6 linked regions of the Homo sapiens genome follow. The protein of the gene in region 5 interacts with the protein of the main gene of each other region in a pairwise test. Each region holds a gene or a part of one and is shown on either strand. Other genes may lie near its edges. The genes, in order: KRTAP10-4, KPNA5, CCDC136, CCDC33, WT1 and GLIS2.

Region 1 (3,500 bases), on a different chromosome or scaffold from region 5:
GAACCAACCTGCGGTGGTGTCGGGAAGCTGGCAAAGGGCGATGTGAACCCCGCTTTTCAGCCACTATTCCCTAAAACCATTCCACGAGGTCAAGCCACACCTCACAAGCAAAGGCTGCTGAGTGCCCAGTGCTGGGCACCTGCTGTCCTGTGCTACCCTCGCCACCCCCCATGCTCCACCTGCCCCAGGCCCAAGTCCACAAGAAACACTTCTGCCGTGCTTGCCTTCCCATCCCGGGTTCTGCTCCCGTGCCCACGTCCTCATCCCAGGTTCTGCCATTGTGTCTGCTTGCTGTGGATTGAATTGTGTCCCTCAAAAGGTGCCGAAGTCCTGACCGCTGGTACATGTGAATGTGACCCTATATGGAAATAGGGTCTTTGTAGGTGATCAAGTTAAGAGGAGGCTGTTAGGATAGGCCCTACTGCAATAATGCTTTGTATCCTTATAAAAAGGGGAGATTTGGACACACACACACACACACACACACACACACACACACACACACACACACACACGGAGAAGCTGTGTGAAGATAAAGGCAGAGCTCAGGTGAGGCCACTGTAAGCCAAGGACCCCAAAGATAGCAGCAGCCCACAGGAGTGAGGGGAGCGGGGTGAGACAGTGCCCCTCGCAGCCTCAGAAGGAACCCATGCTGTCCACTGTCCACACCTCGATCTCAGACTTCTGGCTTCCAAAACCATGAGACACGGAATTTCTGTTGTGTGACCAGCCAGTTTGTGGTACTGTTTGTCATGGCAGCCCAAGGAAAAGAATACATTACAGCATACAAACCATGACTCACATTATCTTTACTTAGAACCCAAACAAACCTCTCTCCCTAAGCTTTCAATCACAGAGGCACATGATCTTGTTCAGCAGCCTAGAAAACCAAGGCCCAGCGGAGCCACCCGTAGGCACCCACTCCCCATAGCCTGGCACACACACACGGCAGAGCCACCCACAGGCACCCACTCCTCATAGTCCAGCACACACACGGCAGAGCCACCCGCAGGCACCCACTCCCCATAGCCCGGCACACACGTGGACCATGCCACCCTCCACGTGCGCCTGGGGAGCAAAGCAGCACAGCCTGAACTGCCCCTCAGCTCTTCCTCCTGAGTCTAAAACACGCACATGCGCCCCAGGCCAATTCCAAGTTTTGTAAACTGAGCAACAGCTCTTGGGAAACAAAAACACAGCTACTGTTTATTCTCCTGGAGCTGGCTGTACACCCCAACAAGGAAGGGAGGGCTTGCTGAGCCTCCTGTCTGGACAACATGCACCAAGGAGGAGTATAAAAGCCCCACAAACCCGAGCACCTCACTCACTCGCTCACCCACTCCCTCCCATCTCCCCCAGCTCAACCCCCAGCACAGCAGCATCCACCATGTCCGTCTGCTCCAGCGACCTGAGCTACAGCAGCCGCGTCTGCCTTCCTGGTTCCTGTGACTCTTGCTCCGACTCCTGGCAGGTGGACGACTGCCCAGAGAGCTGCTGCGAGCCCCCCTGCTGCGCCCCCAGCTGCTGCGCCCCGGCCCCCTGCCTGAGCCTGGTCTGCACCCCAGTGAGCCGTGTGTCCAGCCCCTGCTGCCCAGTGACCTGTGAGCCCAGCCCCTGCCAATCAGGCTGCACCAGCTCCTGCACGCCCTCGTGCTGCCAGCAGTCTAGCTGCCAGCTGGCTTGCTGTGCCTCCTCCCCCTGCCAGCAGGCCTGCTGCGTGCCCGTCTGCTGCAAGACTGTCTGCTGCAAGCCTGTGTGCTGTGTGCCCGTCTGCTGTGGGGATTCTTCATGCTGCCAGCAGTCTAGCTGCCAGTCAGCTTGCTGCACCTCCTCCCCCTGCCAGCAGGCCTGCTGTGTGCCCATCTGCTGCAAGCCTGTCTGCTCTGGGATTTCCTCTTCGTGCTGCCAGCAGTCTAGCTGTGTGAGCTGTGTGTCCAGCCCCTGCTGCCAGGCGGTCTGTGAGCCCAGCCCCTGCCAATCAGGCTGCATCAGCTCCTGCACGCCCTCGTGCTGCCAGCAGTCTAGCTGCCAGCCGGCTTGCTGCACCTCCTCCTCCTGCCAGCAGGCCTGCTGCGTGCCCGTCTGCTGCAAGACTGTCTGCTGCAAGCCTGTGTGCTCTGAGGATTCCTCTTCATGCTGCCAGCAGTCTAGCTGCCAGCCGGCTTGCTGCACCTCCTCTCCCTGCCAGCAGGCTTGCTGTGTGCCTGTCTGCTGCAAGCCTGTGTGCTGCAAGCCTGTCTGCTCTGTGCCCATCTGCTCTGGGGCTTCCTCTCTGTGCTGCCAGCAGTCTAGCTGCCAGCCAGCTTGCTGCACCTCCTCCCAAAGCCAGCAGGGCTGCTGCGTGCCCGTCTGCTGCAAGCCTGTGAGCTGTGTGCCTGTTTGCTCTGGGGCTTCCTCTTCATGCTGCCAGCAATCTAGCTGCCAGCCAGCTTGCTGCACCACCTCCTGCTGCAGACCCTCCTCCTCCGTGTCCCTCCTCTGCCGCCCCGTGTGCAGGCCCGCCTGCTGCGTGCCCGTCCCTTCCTGCTGTGCTCCCACCTCCTCCTGCCAACCCAGCTGCTGCCGCCCAGCCTCCTGCGTGTCCCTCCTCTGACGCCCCGTGTGCTCCCGCCCAGCCTGCTGAGGCCTCCGCTCAGGTCAGAAGCCCAGCTGCTGATGGACACGCCCCCCAGTGCCAGCCAGGCTCAGGTCCCACCTGAAAGCTGATAGTCGCGTCCTGAATTGCTCCTGCACTTTGACCATTTCCTGGTGTCTGCTGTTGAGCTGGACAATGGAAGAACTGAAAGTCTATACTCAATGCTGCAGCCCTCTTGCGGGGGGAGGGGGGCGCTTCTAGAAAGTTCCCATGGCAGTGGCCTCCCCTCCATATCTCCCACCTCTCATGAGGGTCAGTTCAGCCTTGACCCGTGAGGTCTCTGTCCTCCTGGCTCAGAGCCGCAGAGCCTTCTTTGGACGCCCTCAAGCTGACCAATAAAGGCCCTGAGACTGCAATGGCGCTGACACCCAGGTGTGTTGATTAATGCCTTGGCTGGAGCTCACGGCCATGGTTTTCTCCTTTGTGCACAACCCTCTGCTGTCCTTCAGGCCCCTGAGTGTTTTCCTGTGCCCAGGGGCGTGTGGTTCCCAGGGGTCCAGGCTAGACGGACATGGACGCGGGGAGCCTTGCAGCCCTTTGGCCATTTCGGGCCCTTGGGTTTGTCCCTAACCCTCCTGTGTTGTTAGTCGTGTCATAGTTCTTTTTGCTGATTTGCTTTTTAAATTATCCTTCTGCTGCACAATACTTGTCAAATAAGAATGGTGTCTTCTAGCGCCATGCTTGCCCAGAGTGTGTCCAAATGCCTCCCTAGCTTCAAAATCAGTAGTCTTCATCGACATTGCCTAAAACCTCTTGTGCCCTGTGCAGACATCACTGGCATGGTGGGAGGAACACAGACAGGCGATTGGAATTGGGTCTCTGTCGCTTCGCTTCCACCCTGTGTGAGCAGAATCATCTCCTCGAC
Region 2 (3,500 bases), on a different chromosome or scaffold from region 5:
AATAATTAGTTATTATTTTAGATATGCAGCACTACTTTAGATTCATGATGACATCTCTGTCATGATGCTCTTTAAAACAATGAGTGAAAAACAATAAAACACTATTTCAAAAATGGTAGCATATTTGGTTGAAATACAAAATATACTAATATACATAGCACTTATATGTTAAAAACAGAAATATTTAAACATTTTATAAAGTAATCTTTTTAATGTGTTCAACATGAAAAACAGCTTCTCCCTTCACAATTGCCACATTTTAATGGATTATCAGTATAATATTTCTTCTGTTTTATAAATAAATTTTATAGGTTTTCTGTTGCAATTTTTTGCAAAGTATAACCTACAGCACAGTGATATGTATAATTTAAGGTAATAAATATTTTCACATTCTAATTTAGCATTTGCATTATTTCATGCTTCTGAAGCTTTTTTGTTTTTATTTCTGCTTCAAGATAGAGGTAGATTTAGTAGAGATTAGATGTGTAAGACTTACTGCCAAAATGCAATTATCAATAGGTTTACTGCTAATGTGCAGTTTCCAAGAATGCTTGAAAAAATTCAGAATTACTAAGTAATGCTTCACCAAAATTCTCCTTTTCAAGCTTAAATTACTAAATAATTGCATATTCAATTATTCACAAATAGATACAAAAATCCAAACAATAGAAGATATAAATACAGGCACAACAACAAAACTAAAACAACAACAAACTACAATGAAAGGTTGCATCTGAATGGAAATTTTTGTTTCATTTTGCTTTCTAAAAGTGCATCAAATTCTCTTTACTGTTCTATGTAAAAAAACAAACATTCTTACATTGGCAACAAAGAGGAGTTACCTGAAGCTACCCTTTTTAGCCATAAATTTTTTTTCCTCCAGTAAGTTAAAGTTGAAATCCATCCATTGGTGCTTCCTGCTGCTGAAATATAAACTGTTGTTGGTTTTCATCCACCTGAGGTACAATGCTGGGGTCATCTTCTTCTACACCAAAGTAATGTTCAATCAGATCAAATGCCTTCTGGTAAATTTCCTGATTTTCATGGCTTTGCAAAAACTCAATTTTATCCAGACCTGTTATACAAAGTATATATATATATATATATATATATATATATATATATATATATATATAAACAAACTGTTACTACAATTTCAGTATATGTTTAAATCAAAATAATAAGTGAACATCATCTATCACCTCACTGGCAACGGGACTATTTTAATCTAACTGTTGCACATACCGATAGCCATCACTTACGATTTATACTTCAAGAATGAGAGTATGTAGCAGTGTCATACGAAGAAGGACCATAGGCCTGGGAGTAAGATCACAGACACCACCCTGCTAGGTGTGTGATCTTGGCCAGGTAAGTTTAGTTCTTCTGTTTCTCAACTGTAAAATGGCAGTTTTAGATTAACTCCACAGGTCCTTTCTAGAGTAATTAACAAAGCCCAAAAAGGGAAAGCAACAAAACAAATTAAATGAAGAAAATAAAACACGCTGAGCCAGAGAGTATCACTATGAAATAAATGTGTAAAATTTCCAAACCCATACAATAAAAAACATATGGCTGTTGTGCGGTTTAAAAGAATTACAATCTACAATTGAAACTGAAAGGCCTCATTTTGAAAAGATGAGAAGAATCTATAGCAATCGATTTTACTGCTTATCAGAAAAAGCTCTACACGTAAGTCTGGGTAGTGCTGAAAATACATTTCATTTAATTACAGATAAACGACTTCAATCAGATTATCACAGAAAAAAAAGCAGCAAAGCAGTCCTATCTATACACAATCACAGAATAGCTCAAACCCTAGTCTGACTCGGGGTCAAAATAATGACTGTAGTAAGACAATATTCTTAAATCAGTGACTAATATCTTGTATTCATGTAATGTCTTATCCAGTGATGTTATATAATTTGAAAGAAAGACAAAGTGATATCATGGGCTTTAAGAATCAAAAATAAAAGTCTGAATCACCCATACAATGTAAGAGGACTTAATACAGAAAAGTGAATATTTAATGCAAATAAAAGAAAATCAATTTAGATTCATGCCTTATCTAAAATAAATTCCATATGATTAAATGTTTTAAGAACCTAATTTTTAAAACTTGGCAAATAAAAAAATTAATTTTCATCAAATCTCTGTGGAGGCAATGACTTTGTAAACTTTGAAAGAATAGAAAATTAGACTGAGTTATTTAAACATAAATGAACATGGTATGTTTTATTAAAATAAAAGAATGTGTTCAATGGATGATCTGAAAAAAAATAGACCGAGGAAAAAGTCATATCAAAATAAACTACTATAAAATAAAATTCAAATTTTTACCAAAAAAAAAAGTCAAATAGATAACCAGACAAAGTACAATAAATATGCAATTTGGATAAGGACACAGACTAACTCATGAAAAATACATACTACTATCTATAGGAAATAAACCAAAAAATGTACATAAAAGCAACTTGGTGTACTATTTTACATCTGCTGAGTCCACAAAATAAACAAAACAAGTATGAGGTTGTAGAATAGATTCATACAATGCCAGTGACACTGTCAGCAACAGGCCTTTGGAAAGCAAAATGAGAAGACATCAAAAGCTTAAAAAGAAGTCAGTGCCCTAAGACTCAGCAACTGTATTCCTGAAAATTTATCCCCAGATATTAATTCCATAAAAGAAATAAACATATACACAGAAAGATGCTTATTTTGGTATACATAAAGTGATAAACTGGGAACAAACTAATGGTCAACAACAGGTTATGGTTAAACTTCCATTCAAATGGCTAAAACTTGACTCAATATGTAGCATTATGGCCAGACATGGTGGCTCATATCTGTAATTCCAGCACTTTGGGAGGTTGAGGTGGCTGGATCACTTGAGGCCAGGAGCTCGAGACCAGTCTAGCCAACATGGAGAGACCCCGTCTCTACTAAAAATACAAAAATCAGCCGGGCATGGTGGCATGCACCTGTAATCCCAGCTACTCAGGAAGCTGAGGCACATGAATTGCTTGAACATGGGAGGTGGAGGTTTCAGTGAGCCAAGACCACACCACCGCACTCCAGCCTGGGAGACGGAGTAAAACTGTGTCTCAAAAAAAAAAAAAAAAAAAATTACATATTTTTATATATATATAGTATATACATAACATTATGTGGCCATTATAATAAAAATTATGTAGAAATGTAAAATTTCTCCAAAATGTTAAAAAGTAGAACATAAAACTATACATACAATACAATTAAGTCAATGTAAAGTATTTGTGCATACAGACAATGTTAAAAAAAGGTAAATAATAAAAATAAATTGTTAGGGTAATAAAATTACGGGTGACATTTTAAAACTTAAAAAAATACATACTGCTTTTACAACAAAAAAATTGTAGGGAACTGGAAGGGGAAAGTATGACAGATATAAGAACTGACTATAATTGCAAATTTTTAACTGATTGCTTACCATATGCTTCTTCAATGAGAGCACAGTATGG
Region 3 (3,500 bases), on a different chromosome or scaffold from region 5:
CACTTCCCACTTGATCTAGGCTTTGGCTCTGGTTACCTTTTTGCTCTCGGAAAGTCTGAGGGGGTTATTTTCTTCGGGACTTTCAAGGGAAGAGTCGGCGTCATCCTCCTCCTCTTCACTGTCTTCTTCCTTCTCCTCTTCCTCTTTGTCCTCTTCATTTTCCTCCTGATCTTCTGTGGATTTAGCTTCCTCAGGATCTGCTGGCTCAGCAACTAGCTCATCCCCACACTGCTCCTTTGCTTCCTCTTTCACTTGCTTTTTTTCCTCCTCCATCTCCTCTTTCTTTTCCTCCTCTTTTGCTAGTCCATCTAATTTCCTCTGGCTGGCCTTGTAGTACAGCACTACCTCCAGACTCTGTGGGGTGGGAGTAGGGCAGGATGGCGGCTGCGTTACCTGTGAAGCTCCTAATCTCATGACAATGCTGTACTAGCTCCAGGAAACATGACTTCCAGCATGTCAGAGTGCAAGGGTGTGGCCCGGTGCTCTGGGACTGTGAGCCAATCCCCTGAGCATATGTAGAGGGCATCACACCTCACCTCTCAGGGCCACTATGTCTGTTGGCCATTAAGCCATTTCAAACAGCTACCACAACTAAAGAGTCTTGGGCTCTGCACCTAAATTGTTGCTTCCCACCCCTACAGTGACTCTTCTTTTACCCAATCCTCTTTCACTTATTAGTACATAACTACTTTGAACAAATTCCTCCCTCTTCATCTATTTGGTTCTTCTCTTGGGCATGTAACCCAGGAAGAACAGGAGCCCCAACAAATGGGGCTGGGCAAACTGAAGGAGTTGTCCAGCCTAGGGGCTGTGGTCCTTTGGGGCTGCACCTCCCGATGTGAGTTGTCTGTGTTCCACTCTCCCCATAACTTCACAGGAAAAGGGAGCACCCACTTTCCATTAAGATGGGAACCACTGTAGACACTTCAGAGATCCCAGAAGCTTCTCTACAAATCCCTTGCCTGGTTGAAAGGGTTGTGGAGGCAATGCTTCTTCCCAGGATCTCCTCCTCCTTTCTGCTTATCTGGCTACCAAGGTTACTACTCACCTTTCTGGTCTCAAGGTCGCTCTCAGAAGTATCCGAGCATGGCTTGGTCACCTTTTTCATTTTAACCCCATTGGCATTCTTGTTCATGTTCTTATTAGCATTCTTCCCCCGGGCTTCTTTGACAACAGAAGGCCTCTTCTCCCTGAGCTGGCGGAGCTCCTCCTGGCAGCACTGCAGCTGCCCCTCCAGCTGCTCCTGCACTACCAGAAGCCGCCCCTGCTCATCCATGCTAGCCTGGTATTGCAGCTGCAGCTCCCGCAGCTTGGTCTGCAGTTCTTTGATCTGTTGGTAGTGGAGGGCCAGTTACCCAGAGTTGGCTGGTTATGCAACCAGTTGGCTGACCACGCAACCAAACTCAGCCCTGCTTGGGGGTCACTGTCTCAGAAATCTCCCTGTTAAAGCCCATAGGAAGTAGACAATAAAGAAAATATTCAACGGTGGAAAATGAGCCTCTCAAATAGTTTTACAAATAGCTTCTCCTAACTTGAGGCACCTGATGATGTCCATCTAATAAGATGAAAAAAACGGCAGGGCGCAGCGGCTCACTTGCCATCCAGTGTAATCCCAGCACTTCAAGAGGCTGAGGTGGGCAGATCACTTGAGGTCAGGAGTTCGAGACCAGCCTGGCCAACATGGTGAAACCCCATGTCTACTAAAAATACAAACATTCGCTGGGCTTATTGGAGCGCGCCTGTAGTCCCAGAAACTTGGGAAGCTGAAACAGGAGAATCACTTGAACCCAGGAGGCGGAGGTTGCAGGAAGCTGAGATCGTGCCACTGCACTCCAGCCTGGTGACAGAGCAAGACTCTGTCTCAAAAAAAAAAAAGAAGGTCAAAACAATGATTTAAATGGTGTTTTCTACTGTGACTGGGGAATAACAATAGGGCTGCTACCAATTCTGAACCTCAGGGATTTATTATATAATTCTTTTTTTTGAGACAAGAGTTTCACTCTTGTTGCCCAGGCTGGAGTGCAATGGCATGATCTTGGCTCACCGCAACCTCCGCCTCCTGGATTCAAGCGGTTTTCCTGCCTCAGCCTCTTGAGTAGCTGGCATTACAGGCATGCGCCACCATGCCCAGCTAATTTTGTGTATTTTTAGTAGAGATGGGGTTTCTCCAAGTTGGCCAGGCTGGTCTCAAACTCCTGACCTCAAGTGATCCACCCGCCTCGGCCTCCCAAAGTGCTGAGATTACAGGGGTGAGCCACCGCACCTGGCCTAGAATTCTTTTTATGGGAACTCCTACTTCATCCAACCCATCTCTCTAACAGGAACAATTACTTAAAGAACTGTGTTGTACACTCCTGAAGTGTGTACTGGGCTCCTGCACCTCACCCTGGAAACAGAGGCAAGTCACATCCTGCTCCCTGATCTCGGGTTTTGTCTTCCTTGGCTGATGGCAGCACACAACCATCCCCTCAGTAGGTACCAATACTAGCCAATCTGGACCCATGTGTTCGCTGCTCTCTGAATCTCTCCCGTGTGTATACAAAGAGACCCCCACTGGACCGTGAACCCCTGGCCAGAGACAAGACTTCTGTCCCATTCCTAGGGGGTGCAGAGCACTCTTCTTGGCATTGTGAGCGATCCAAAAGGAGACATGTCCCTGTCCTTGAGCTGCTTGCAATCTAGTTGGTGCTCCTAGTTGGTGCACCGGGAGACAAGGCAAATGCACACAAAATGATGAAAGAAGATTGGCAAATGCAAAAATACAGTTCTACAGAAGTGGTCTAGAACACAAAGCAAAAGAGAACAGAAGTGGCAAAGGGAGAAAGAGAGAAATCATTCGATGAGAGAAGTCCTGATGACTAGTAAACCCCAGCTCCACGGGCACTTGGGAAATGTCATCAGGGATGGAGCAGACTGCCCAGCCTCTGAGGTGCATATTCTCCCTGCTTTGTCCCTCTCTTTAGCCTCTATGAAGTGGCCATGACCTCTATGGCTCCAGGGGCTGCCAGAGGAAACCCTGCCTCCCTGACAGTGGTTACCTCATTCTTGTCGTTCTGGGGGGCCATGGGCTTTTCAAGGCATTCCATGCACTCCTTGAACTCCCTTTCACAGGCATCCAGCTCTTCCTTCAGGTCTTTCTGCTTGGCCAGTAACTTTTCCATCTGCTCTTGCAGCTGGCTGTGTTCCTCCTGGCTTATCTGGTACATGGCCTGCACCGCCTGCAGCTTGATCAGCACTTTCACAACCATTTCCTCAAAGCGCTGCGGGGGGTGGGGGAGCAACAATAGCACCCTGAGGAGCACCTAAGCTCCGCCCTACTCTGCTGGGCCCTTCCCTGGATACCAAACAATGGCCACCAGGATCCAGAGATGCCCGCGGGGGATTACTATATTTACCCCCATAAAGAGCATCGTGGCTGTGGTGAGGAAACGGACTGAATCTTATGGGCCTCTGTCCAGATGGGGGATTCTCTCTATGAGAGGGCTGAGCGGGAGACCAGG
Region 4 (3,500 bases), on a different chromosome or scaffold from region 5:
ACACTTTCAGTAGTTTTCCCATGGTCATGTTAGCTGGTATGTGGTGGAACCAGAATTTGGACCCAGACAGTCTGGCTCTAGAGCCTGAGCTCTGAACTCTCTTGTTATACACAGAGATTGTGTACTTGGCATGCTTCTCCTGTGTTACAGACGAGGACTCTTGTGGTTCAGTAATGTGCCTGAATTTCCACAGTGAGGATTTGAACTGTGGTTCAAATCAGGGTCTGGCTGGCTGAAAGCCTGAACTCTTGCACTGTCTCACAGGGTCACCCTGTACTTGTCTCCCAAGTTGCTCAGGGGCAATTTCTCTGGCTTGGTTCGTCATAGTCCCAGAGGCAAGACTGGCTTCTGGGGTTCCAGGGAGCTCCTCACTTCTAGACTGGGTGACTTCCCTGGTGGGTGCCTTGACAGAAGCTTCTGGAGAAGCCAAATTCTCCTATGGAGGTGTGGTGAGGTGGGGCAGGGTGAGGCAGGGTGGGGCCAGGTGGGCACGCTAGGGGCCCAGTTCAGGGCAGGGGGCTCACCATGATGGGGAGCCGCTCCACGTGAAGCCCGTCCAAGCCTTTCCCTGTCAGCATCTTCTGGTACAAACGGCTCTTTAGCGGCAACACAGAGATGCCCAGGGGCTGGTTGAGGGTCCACGGCTGGCTGCCTTTCACTGTGGGGGAAGGATCAACTAGGGCTCCTGCCAAAGCCCCCACCTCGGCCCCATCCTTTAATACCTGACATCCAGTCCTCCTGTCTCCCGCTGCCTGCTTTCCTGCCTCCTGGCCTTTCCCTGCACATACATCCTCTTCTCATCTTCAGGGCTTTGTGAACTCAAAGCCAACTCTAAACATACTCTGTGTGTCTGGGAATTTATATACATCAGCCTCATCTCTACCCTTTGGGGGCTTCAATCCCACAGTGCAGAAAACTGTGGATCAGCTGGTCTCTGAAGCCCATCTCCCTCACCCCTCTCTGTGAGTTCCGAGGGCTCCAGCCCTCCCCCATCACTGATGGGTGCAATAAAACAAAGCTTGGGGCCAAGACCTAGTATGGGACAGGCCCACGTGTCCTGGCCTGTGGACAAGGAACGCAGCCAGCTCTCCTCTGCCTGCATTAGGAAGCCGCCTGGACACCTGGGAACCATCCATCCCTGTGGGAGGCAGAGGTGGGATGGTCTGAACACCCTTTCATAATACAGATCTCCTGAGGCATGGCTGCCCTGGCGAGGCACCAGGGGTCACGTACTTGAAGTTGAGGAGTAGTACTCCAGCACCAGGGCTGTGTCTTCTGAGAAGCTGGTAGCTCCATCTCGGCCTTGGAAGAGGAAGGACTGATTCCACAGGGGCTGCTCTGGGGGTCCCCCAGGCTTGGACAGCTGGAGGGAGAGGGTAGGAGCAGGTGGTGGGGGCCACAGCTTCTCCCAAATCAAGGCATACACAGATATTTGGTTTTGTGTATCTAGATTTGTCACAAATGTTTCTCCCAACTATAAAAGCAAGCTGGCTGGGCACAGTGGCTCACGCCTGTAATTCCAGCACTTCGGGAGGCCAAGGCAAGTGGATCACTTGAGGTCAGGAGTTCAAGACCAGCCTGGCCAACATGGCAAAACCCTGTCTCTACTAAAAATACAAAAATTAGCTAGGTGTGGTGGGGGACTCCTGTAATCCCAGCTACCCAGGAGGCTGAGGCAGGAGAACTGCTTGAACCCGGGGGGGCAGAGGTTGCCCTGAGATGAGATTGCGCCACTGTACTCCAGCCTGGGTGACAGAGCGAAACTCCGTCTCTAAATAAATAAAATAAATAAATAAATAAATAAACAAATAAATGCAGCACACACCTAATAAATACATTTAGGAAAATGCAGAAAAATAGGAAGAAGAAAAACAGCTCCTGTGTTCCTATGATAAACACAATAATTCATAAAACTGTGCTTCTTCCTAGTTTTTTTCTGTGTATATTTTGTGTATAATCACCATTCTAGCATCCTGCATTTTTCATTTGCCAGTAAAACCTAAGCAGATCCAAAGTCACAGAAAGCTCATTACCCATGACTTGAGTAACTTCAGGATATGAAGTTCATGTCCAAGTGCCCTGATTTCTTCCTTCCCATTTTTCCCTGTAATAACACTGCATTGAACGTTCTCTGCTACATATCTTCATGTCGCAAATTACTTCCTTAGTACAACTACCTAAAATGGAATTGCTGGGTTATAGGACATGTGTATTTTAGGACACCTCATTCATTATTGGTAAACTGTTTTCCTAAAGTGTTGTATCTGTGTTCACACCCATGGCTGGTGGTGTCACAGATGCCAAGTTAGACATGACCTCTGTCTGTGTCACCAGCCCCTCTCTTTCCCACACAGTTTCCCCAGCCCCTTGCAGAGGCCAAGACATCTCTGCAGACTACAGAGGCTCCGTGTGCCCGCAGTGTGGGCCAGTGGGCACTCGGGGGACTTGATGGCACCCTAGGTCAGCAGTTAGGGCACACACATGGGTATGATTTAAACAATGAAACAAGACAGTATTAACTGTAGCACTGCCCAATAAGAGAGCTATATGAAATATTCCCATGGGTGGTCAGAAAAGCCTCCTTAAAGGAAGCAGAACCAGAGAAAGGCTCTGAAGGAAGGTCTGGCTGGGTGAAGAGAGGGATAAAGGTCTTCAGGATGGGAAAACAGCACAATCAAAAATGTGGAGTGGCACTGAGCACACCCTGTGCAGAGGACGCCTGAAATGAGGAGAGACTCCAGGGGGAGGCCCAGCATCTGCCAAGGCCAGAAGGTGGGAGATGGGAGATGGCCATCGGCCCATAACTCCCAGCAGGCAGCCCTGCAGGGTCCCAGCACAGGGCGGGGCTGCGGGTCGTTGCTACAGACCCACCAAGTGGCTGCCTTGCCTCTGTTCCCCAGCCAGGGGCTGTCAGCAACAGTAGCAGCCGCTCCCACCTCCTGCTCCCCCACAGGAATCAGTCATTGCTCGAAAAGGTCAGCACAAATGCACTGCGGCTCCAGGAGTTATTGATGCAGGATCATGAAATATCAGTGTAGGTCCACTTCCCCACAGTGGCAGGGTGCTGATGACGGTCACACTAATGGGCCTGGTTTGTCCAGGCCCAGCCCAAGGCTCAGCTGTGTCTGCCCCTGCCCCTGGGGAGATGGGTTGCAGTCACTGCAGGGCTAGGGTGCCCTGGACACCTGAACAGAGACTGCAATGATGGGAACATCCCACTTCTTATGGGAGCTTGGCCAACAGGTCCGGTGAGAGAAGTTGGTTCTGACTTCTGTGGGGCTTGGGAGTGATCTTTCAAGATTGATCCCCAAACCATGTCCCTCCCAGAGTCACCCCATTCTCCTGGGTGCAGGAGGGTCCACATGGCTGGGACTGTCTGCCAGGCATTGGGGCACCTGTGACTCAGTCCCCTGCCGTCCATACCTTGCTCCTACCCTGGAAGAGGGTTATTTAGTAGACGCTAGCTGCCCTTTCTGGGACCTATTCATGTGTCTAAATGG
Region 5 (3,500 bases):
ACACCAGCACACTTGGCTAAATTTTTAAAAATATTTTTTTTAGAGACAGGGTCTCACTATATTGCCCAGGCTGGTCTTGAACCCCTTAAGCAATCCTCCCGCCTACGCCTCCCAACATACTGGGATTACAGGTGTGAGCCACTGCACCTGGCCCCTTTCTTTGTATTTGTATCCAGGTTGGTGCCTTATGTTTCACCTCTGTGAGCTGGAGAAGATGTTACCCCTATTGAGTCTGATTTCCTTCCCCTGCCTTTGAGCTTCTGCTCATCTATCACTTTCTCTGCCCAAACTACCAGCCTCCACTGGCTAACCCAAGCTGTTCTTCCTCTGAGAAACTTTCTCGGATGACCTTAGTTCAAACTGATACCCTCCAAACCCCTCGGTACCTCCTGTCTCTGATTTAGTACATGATCATGTACTCTCTCAGTCACTTTTCATTTCTTTATATCCTAGCTCCCAAACAAACCAGGAACTCTTTGAGAAGGAGGATTATAACCTGCAGTTAAAAAGAAGGAGTTTGAGTCCTCTTTCTGCTATATCCTATACTCTTCATAAATGTTTTGTGAGTGAGGATTAAATGAAATATACATGTAGAGAGCCTGACACCCAAAAAGTACTTAATATAACAGTCTGTACTGTTGTTATAAATAAATAAGAAAATATTGCTCTCTTTCAAGGGGGACTGTAGGATTGTTAAATACCAACCTGCCCTCATCTTCTGCAAGGAAGAGTTTCTTAAAGGCTCCAGTGGGTCTGGGGTTTTGGCTGTCTTGTTCACTGCCTTCCCTTCACACAGTTGTCTAACCCTCACTGCATTCTAAGTGCTTCTCTCTCACTAAAAGTTTCTACAACCATATTGCCTTCATTTATTCCCTTGCATTTTTCAGGCAGGACTTTACTTTCTCGTTTTCCTTATAACCTTGACAGTCACTTTTCAAATGATCCCATTTGGGGAAATGTGTAAAAACATAACATGCCACTGGTCCCCTCCTTTTTAGCCTCAAAGTCTGTGGCCCACTGAGTGCAAACTCAGATTGACACCAGAATTGCATCCTCTGGACACAGTGAATTAGCAAATTTCAATGGTCCAAGGAAATCTGAATGCAGCTCACTTTTTTCTCCAGCTTCCCAAGAGCAAAATCAGCAGTAATAACACAGTTGCAACAGTGATCCTATAATAATGCTGTTCTTCGATTGTGGAAAAGGCAGCAGTAGCTCCTCTGTAGGAAAACCTGGGTTTTACCACACTCCCACACTCCCACCTAGTGCCCACAAGGCCCAGAGTAAACGTTCTGTGACATGGCTGTCCACATTCAAGGTGGCCAACACCAAACAATGCCAGTTCTCTGTTTCCCAGAAGCAGCCTCTCTGACCTGGGGGAAAATCCAGTTTCATTGGCGTATCTTCAAAGATAAAAAATCATCATCTCTCTCTCTCCTTTTTTTTTTTTTTGGCAGAGTCTTGCTCTGTCGCCCAGGCTGGAGTACAGTGGTAAGATCTCAGCTCACTGCAACCTCTGCCTCCTAGGTTCAAGCAATTCTCCTGCCCCAGCCTCCCAAGTACAGGTGCGTGCCACCACACCCGGCTCATTTTTGTATTTTTAGTAGAGACGGGGTTTCACCTTGTTGGCCAGGCTGGTCTCCAACTCCTGACCTTGGGTGATCCACCCACTTCGGCCTCCCAAAGTGCTGGGATTACAGGCGTGAGCCCCCATGACTGACCTTTTTTTTTTAAGTGATCACTAAAAAATCAAACTAACAATCAATTTTCCCCTTCCTGTCTAGTTGATTATTACTGACCCAAGCAGGTAAGTTTTTCTTTGGACCATCTCTTCTAAAATTTCACAATGATCTTGCCCATCGACCTCCTAAAACCATCTGATGACTATATTCCCAGGCCAGCTCCTCTCTCCTTAGAAATGCTAATAGTATTCTAACACCAACACGATTCCTACACAGGTCTCTTTAATTCTGTGGCACTTTCTCTCTACCACTCTGCTCTGCCTTTCTGGAAGACAGTTTACTGACCTCTGTAATAAAGGATAGATAATCAGAATGCAAAATGGCCCCACAGCCTCTTTACAACACCTGGATCAGACCTTTCAAAGCAGTGCTTACTTTCCATCCTGGAAATAACCTGGGTCCTTAGCAGTGTGAGAGCCTGGAAAAGGAGCTCTTGAACCATGTTTGCCCAAGACTGGACAGCGGGCACACTTACCAGTGTGCTTCCTGCTGTGCATCTGTAAGTGGGACAGCTTAAAATATCTCTTATTGCAGCCTGGGTAAGCACACATGAAGGGGCGTTTCTCACTGGTCTCAGATGCCGACCGTACAAGAGTCGGGGCTACTCCAGGCACACGTCGCACATCCTGCAGGCAGAGAGTAAGAGGAAGGGAGGCTTTAAGCCACATGTGAACATTCACGTAGGTCTTGAGGGAGAGTGAGCACTGGAGTATATCCAAAGAAGGGGTGGCAGGTGCAGACCTAAAACCACTCCCATTCACACTCCAGATCCCCATGGCAGACATCAGTAATGGATGCTAGATCAGGACATTCTACAATGCAGTGCTCTAAGATCATCACTACTGAGCAACCAGAAGTGGCTGTTGAGATGAAACCTACATGAAATGGCTGTCCCAGAGCCTCTGCAAAAGAAATGCTGGTACCTGGAAGAGCTCCCAATCCATTCTATCTCTCAGCTTCTCCTCTTGAGGTAGTGATGTCTGCAAGTCCAAAGTCCCAAAGTCTAACTACTCCCTCCCACTTGGAGTCATGACCACATGACCTAGAGCCAGTCTGCAATGGGTGGGGACATCCTTATTAGAAAAAAGTGGGATAATGAATGAGCCCCTAACTGACCAGATCGTCCAAGTATAAGTAAATAACAAGGAAGAAGAAGCCCCTGGATTTGGGGATCCCATCTGTGAAAGGAAGCAAAACCCACCAGAAGGCCATGGTGAAGCCAGCACAACCTTTAATAGTGAGGCCAGAAAGCACTGGAATCCATCTGCCTTCTGTGCTCTGCACACGTCCTTTGCAGGGCATCTGTTGCTCCCCTTTATCTTGTGGAAGTGCAGTGTGTGTGTTGTCAGTCTTCCAAGAATAAGAACTGGAGGAAAACAAAGAGGCAAGCTCCCCTTCCTCTTCTTGGGGTCAGGGAGTCATAAATGGGAGCTGAGCAAGTGCCTGAGTGGCCACTAAATTCTCCTCATTCCTTTATAGATGAGTAAATCAACCCCAAAGGCGGTGAGATGCTGACACAAGAGTGCATCCATGTTTTGGTTTTGTTTGTTCTTAAGACAGGATCTTATTCTGTTGTCCAGGCTGGAGTGCAGTGGCACGATCGGGGCTCCTGCAGCCTCGACCTCACCAGCTTAAGTAATCCTCCCACTTCAGCCTCCTGAACAGCTGGGACAACAGGTGAGAGTCATCATGCCCAGCTAATTTTTTTTTTTTTTTTTGGTAGAGATAGGGTCTCCCTATGTTGCTCAGGCTGGTCTC
Region 6 (3,500 bases), on a different chromosome or scaffold from region 5:
TAGGGTTTCACCGTGTTAGCCAGGATGGTCTCGATATCCTGACCTCGTGATCCGCCCACCTCGGCCTCCCAAAGTGCTGGGATTACAGGCGTGAGCCACCAAGTCTGGCCTTTTTTTTTTTTTTTTTTTTTTTTTTTAAGACACAGAGTCTTGCTCTGTCTCCCAGGCTGGACTGCAGTGGCGTGGTCATGGCTAACTGCCGCCGAGGCTCAAGAGATCCTCCTGCCTCAGCCTGCAGAGCAGCTAGGACCACAGGTGCACCACCACCACACCCAGCTCATTTTTAAATTTTTTATTTTGCAGAGATGGGGGGGTCTCCCTGTGTCATCCAGGCTGGTCTCGATCTCCTGGACTCAAGCCATCCTCCTGTCTCTGCCTCCCAAAGTGCTAGGATTACAGGCAGGAGCCACCACGCCCAGCCCGTCATCTTCTAATTTAACAGAAAGAGGAAGTGAGTCCCTGGTCACTCCTGAACCAGTCAGAGAAACCCTGGTCTGTGGGTGTCCCTGAGTCTATTACTGGAACCATCACTTCAGCAGTATGGTCTTACAGATGGGGAAACTGAGGGCTGAAGGGGGAGGCATCCAGCCCAGGCTGCACAAGTAGGTGGCAAACCCACAACCAGAAGCCACGGGCAAGCAGCATGAGGACAGTACCCATAGCCAGGTGCGGGTACTGTGAAGGCAGGTGCTGTTTCATCCCCATTTTACAGATGCAAAAACTGAGGCTCAGGGGAGTGAAGTGACCCATCCAAGGTCCCACAGCTTGTCCGTGGCAGAGCTGGGTTTCAACCCCAGGTAAGTCCAGAAGCCATGTTCACTATTGGCCCTTCCTATGTCAGGGGCTCAGGCTTGGTACCCCCTCCCCGCCCAGGGACTTGTGGGGCTAGGAGGGATAGCAGAGCAGGCAGTGGGTGGGCGCTGGAGGGGCTGGCTGGGGTGGGGGGCCCACCAGGAGGCTTGGAGAGCCGAGGGCAGATCTGCTGCCAAAGCAAACGGCCCCACAGCCCCAGATTCCTGGGAACCAGCTGCGGCTCCCTGCTCTGGCCAAGAGCTCCACCCTCCTTGGCCGCCCAGCAGCAGGGGCTGGCGGGCAGGGGCAGGGCCTGCTGGGGGCCCCAGGCAGGAGGGCTCGTCCTCTCAGGGCCCCCCTTCCTGACCAGGCAACAGAACCGGACTCGAAATCTGGGGCCCCACCCGGCTCTGCTACTCCCTTTGCGTGTCTCTTCAGTCTGCGCCTCATCCCCCTCATCCCAAATGGGATTATATAGGACCCCCATGTTGGGTTTCAGGGAGAAACCAATGCAGTGCTGCACATCCAATCACTATTGAGTGCTTCTCCTTCGTCCGTAACGTTCAGCACGGAGAACAGTGCCTGGCACATAGTAGGTGCTTAATAAAACGTGCTGAATGAATCGTCGCCAGTGTGCATGAGTCCATAGCCTTTGGCCCATCTACCGCTGTGAGGGCAGCTGAGTGGGGACTGGCCATCCCCTCTATGCCACTGCAGTCTCACCCTGAACCAGGAGAACCTGGGCTCTGCCACCTGCCAGCCAGCGTGCACCCTAAACAAGCCTATGCCCCTCAAAGAACCTCAGGCCTCTTCAATCCTGGGGAGTGACCACAGCTGGCCCTAACCACCTTCCAGAGCCCAACTGCATCAAAGAAAGAGCACTACAAGGCCCCGGGAAGGCCTGATCAACCCTGGAAGGAGCTGGCCGCAGACAGGCCTCCTCCCAGGACTGGAGGGGGAGGAGCTTATCCTGAGGCCTGGCCCAGCAGATCCCAGGAGAGGGGCCAGGGCAGGCGGCACTTCCTGGAAGAGTGGGGGATTCACCGTCCCTGGGAACCTTTGGCTCAGTAGGCAGCCCCTCCCCCTCCCAAGACGGGGCACTCAGCCAGCACCCCCGGACCTTTTGGGAGGGCAGACCCCCTCCCGGGGTGGGAACACAAGGGGTCCGAGGTGACCCAGCCAGGGCTGACCTCTGCCCTCTGCCGTGGGGTCCTCGGGAAAGCACCTGAAGATGGGATGTGCCAGGGATCTTTTTTCTGCGTGTTCACAGAGTGTGCCCCAGGGCCAGGCTGCCTGGTTACAGCCCCCTGTGCCACCCCTGGCTGTGGGAACTCAGAAAGGCCCTGCTGTCTCTGAGCCTTGGTTTCCTTGTAGGTAACAGACACCACGGCAATGGTCCCTGGGACTCAGGGCATCTTGCAAGGGAGGGCCTTGTCCTCATGCCTGCCATAAAGAAGCTGCCAGCTACTGGTAACCTAAAGGATTCTTGTTTCCGGCCCCAGGCTGGGGGTTCCCTGCACAGCAACTTGGGCCTGCCAAGGTCACCCAGATAATTCAGGCAGAGCTGAAGCTGGAAGACGGGCCGGAGGGCTTCCCTGGCCTGCACCAGCCCGGGCTTCCTAGGAGATGCCCCACCAGAGGCACTTCCTTCTCCAACGCCAGCAGGGAGGGTGACACCGGGCTCCGGGAGCCCCGGCACACACACGCACACTCACACAGATGGCCATGGCAGTCCAGCTGCAGGGCCGGCCTGGCACAGAGGCCTCCCCATCCTGGTGGCTCCGGGCCCCTGCTGCAGTGGCCTCCACCCCCCCGCTGCCTGCCCGCTGCTGCACCTTTGCACAACTATGTCTGGTATTTTCCTGTCTGCCCAGCTTTGGGGGGGTGCTTGGAGCTATGATCACCGCCTGCACCTGGGCCCCAGCCAGAGGAAAGCCCGCCCCGCAGCCCCCACACCTGCCCACCCACCCGGGCTGGGAGGGGAGGGGACCAGAGCACTGGGCCCTGCCACCCAAATCCCTGGGAGGGGCTGGCACCAGGGAGCGAGACAGGGATGCACGCCCAGCAAGGCTGGGGCACAGACAGCCCAGGCCCTGCCAGGCGGCACTGCCATTCTCAGCAGACCCAGCCAGAGCTATCTGAGGCCAGCAAAGGGATGGGCCAGTGTAGCACAGGACATGAGCAGGCACCCACAGCACCCCCGGATGTACAGACACCTGTGCACAAATGTGGCACACACAGGACATCACAGTAACCCCTTGCCCCAGTGTCGGGGCCAGGACTCAGGAGCCTTGGCTTCTGGGGGAGAGCAGGGATGAGGCCGGGTCCCCAGAGCGAAGGAAACACCGCGCCTCCCAAGCCACGCCTGGCTGCAGGCAGATCCCACAAGGAGCTCCTAAGTCCTGGGGGGTCGGGGCAGGCCCGTGGCCCACGCCTCCCCTGCCTGGGGCCAGGTACCAGGTCCACTGGGAACGGCACCCGCCAACTCCGAGAGCAGGAGTGGGTAAGGCGGGCGGTGGACCTTGGCCTGCCCTCCTGCCTCGGTTCTCCAACCACGCATTCATGCATTCCAACGCCAGGCCCTGCTAGATCGAACCGGACCTTGAGGGTGCCCCGACCAAGGTGGGGTGGGAGAAACAGTGTAGGGGGGGGGCTGCTCCTGCAGGGGGTTGGGCACAGATCCGGGTCAGCCTCATGGATATGGGGTG

Evidence for each region.
Region 1: the proteins of WT1 (region 5) and KRTAP10-4 interact in a two-hybrid assay, tested with the Homo sapiens proteins (one large-scale study listed by BioGRID and IntAct).
Region 2: the proteins of WT1 (region 5) and KPNA5 interact in a two-hybrid assay, tested with the Homo sapiens proteins (one large-scale study listed by BioGRID and IntAct).
Region 3: the proteins of WT1 (region 5) and CCDC136 interact in a two-hybrid assay, tested with the Homo sapiens proteins (one large-scale study listed by BioGRID and IntAct).
Region 4: the proteins of WT1 (region 5) and CCDC33 interact in a two-hybrid assay, tested with the Homo sapiens proteins (one large-scale study listed by BioGRID and IntAct).
Region 6: the proteins of WT1 (region 5) and GLIS2 come close enough for resonance energy transfer, tested with the Homo sapiens proteins (one large-scale study listed by BioGRID).

The regions. Positions count from the first base shown.
Region 1 is NC_000021.9:44,572,372-44,575,871, forward strand, and holds KRTAP10-4 (keratin-associated protein 10-4), read left to right. Parts: upstream 1-1,357; 5' UTR 1,358-1,387; coding exon 1,388-2,593; 3' UTR 2,594-3,000; downstream 3,001-3,500. UniProt on the Homo sapiens protein: In the hair cortex, hair keratin intermediate filaments are embedded in an interfilamentous matrix, consisting of hair keratin-associated proteins (KRTAP), which are essential for the formation of a rigid and resistant hair shaft through their extensive disulfide bond cross-linking with abundant cysteine residues of hair keratins.
Region 2 is NC_000006.12:116,729,711-116,733,210, reverse strand, and holds part of KPNA5 (importin subunit alpha-6), read right to left. Parts: coding exon 3,470-3,500; intron 1,076-3,469; coding exon 888-1,075; 3' UTR 1-887. UniProt on the Homo sapiens protein: Functions in nuclear protein import as an adapter protein for nuclear receptor KPNB1. Binds specifically and directly to substrates containing either a simple or bipartite NLS motif.
Region 3 is NC_000007.14:128,812,468-128,815,967, reverse strand, and holds part of CCDC136 (coiled-coil domain-containing protein 136), read right to left. Parts: intron 3,261-3,500; coding exon 3,039-3,260; intron 1,331-3,038; coding exon 1,049-1,330; intron 355-1,048; coding exon 37-354; intron 1-36. UniProt on the Homo sapiens protein: May play a role in acrosome formation in spermatogenesis and in fertilization.
Region 4 is NC_000015.10:74,277,826-74,281,325, reverse strand, and holds part of CCDC33 (coiled-coil domain-containing protein 33), read right to left. Parts: intron 2,208-3,500; exon of another isoform or gene 2,034-2,207; intron 1,364-2,033; coding exon 1,234-1,363; intron 659-1,233; coding exon 525-658; intron 1-524.
Region 5 is NC_000011.10:32,394,040-32,397,539, forward strand, and holds part of WT1 (Wilms tumor protein), read right to left. Parts: intron 2,369-3,500; coding exon 2,218-2,368; intron 1-2,217. UniProt on the Homo sapiens protein: Transcription factor that plays an important role in cellular development and cell survival. Recognizes and binds to the DNA sequence 5'-GCG(T/G)GGGCG-3'. Regulates the expression of numerous target genes, including EPO.
Region 6 is NC_000016.10:4,322,567-4,326,066, reverse strand, and holds part of GLIS2 (zinc finger protein GLIS2), read right to left. Parts: intron 1,420-3,500; exon of another isoform or gene 1,292-1,419; intron 798-1,291; exon of another isoform or gene 713-797; intron 1-712. UniProt on the Homo sapiens protein: Can act either as a transcriptional repressor or as a transcriptional activator, depending on the cell context. Acts as a repressor of the Hedgehog signaling pathway. Represses the Hedgehog-dependent expression of Wnt4.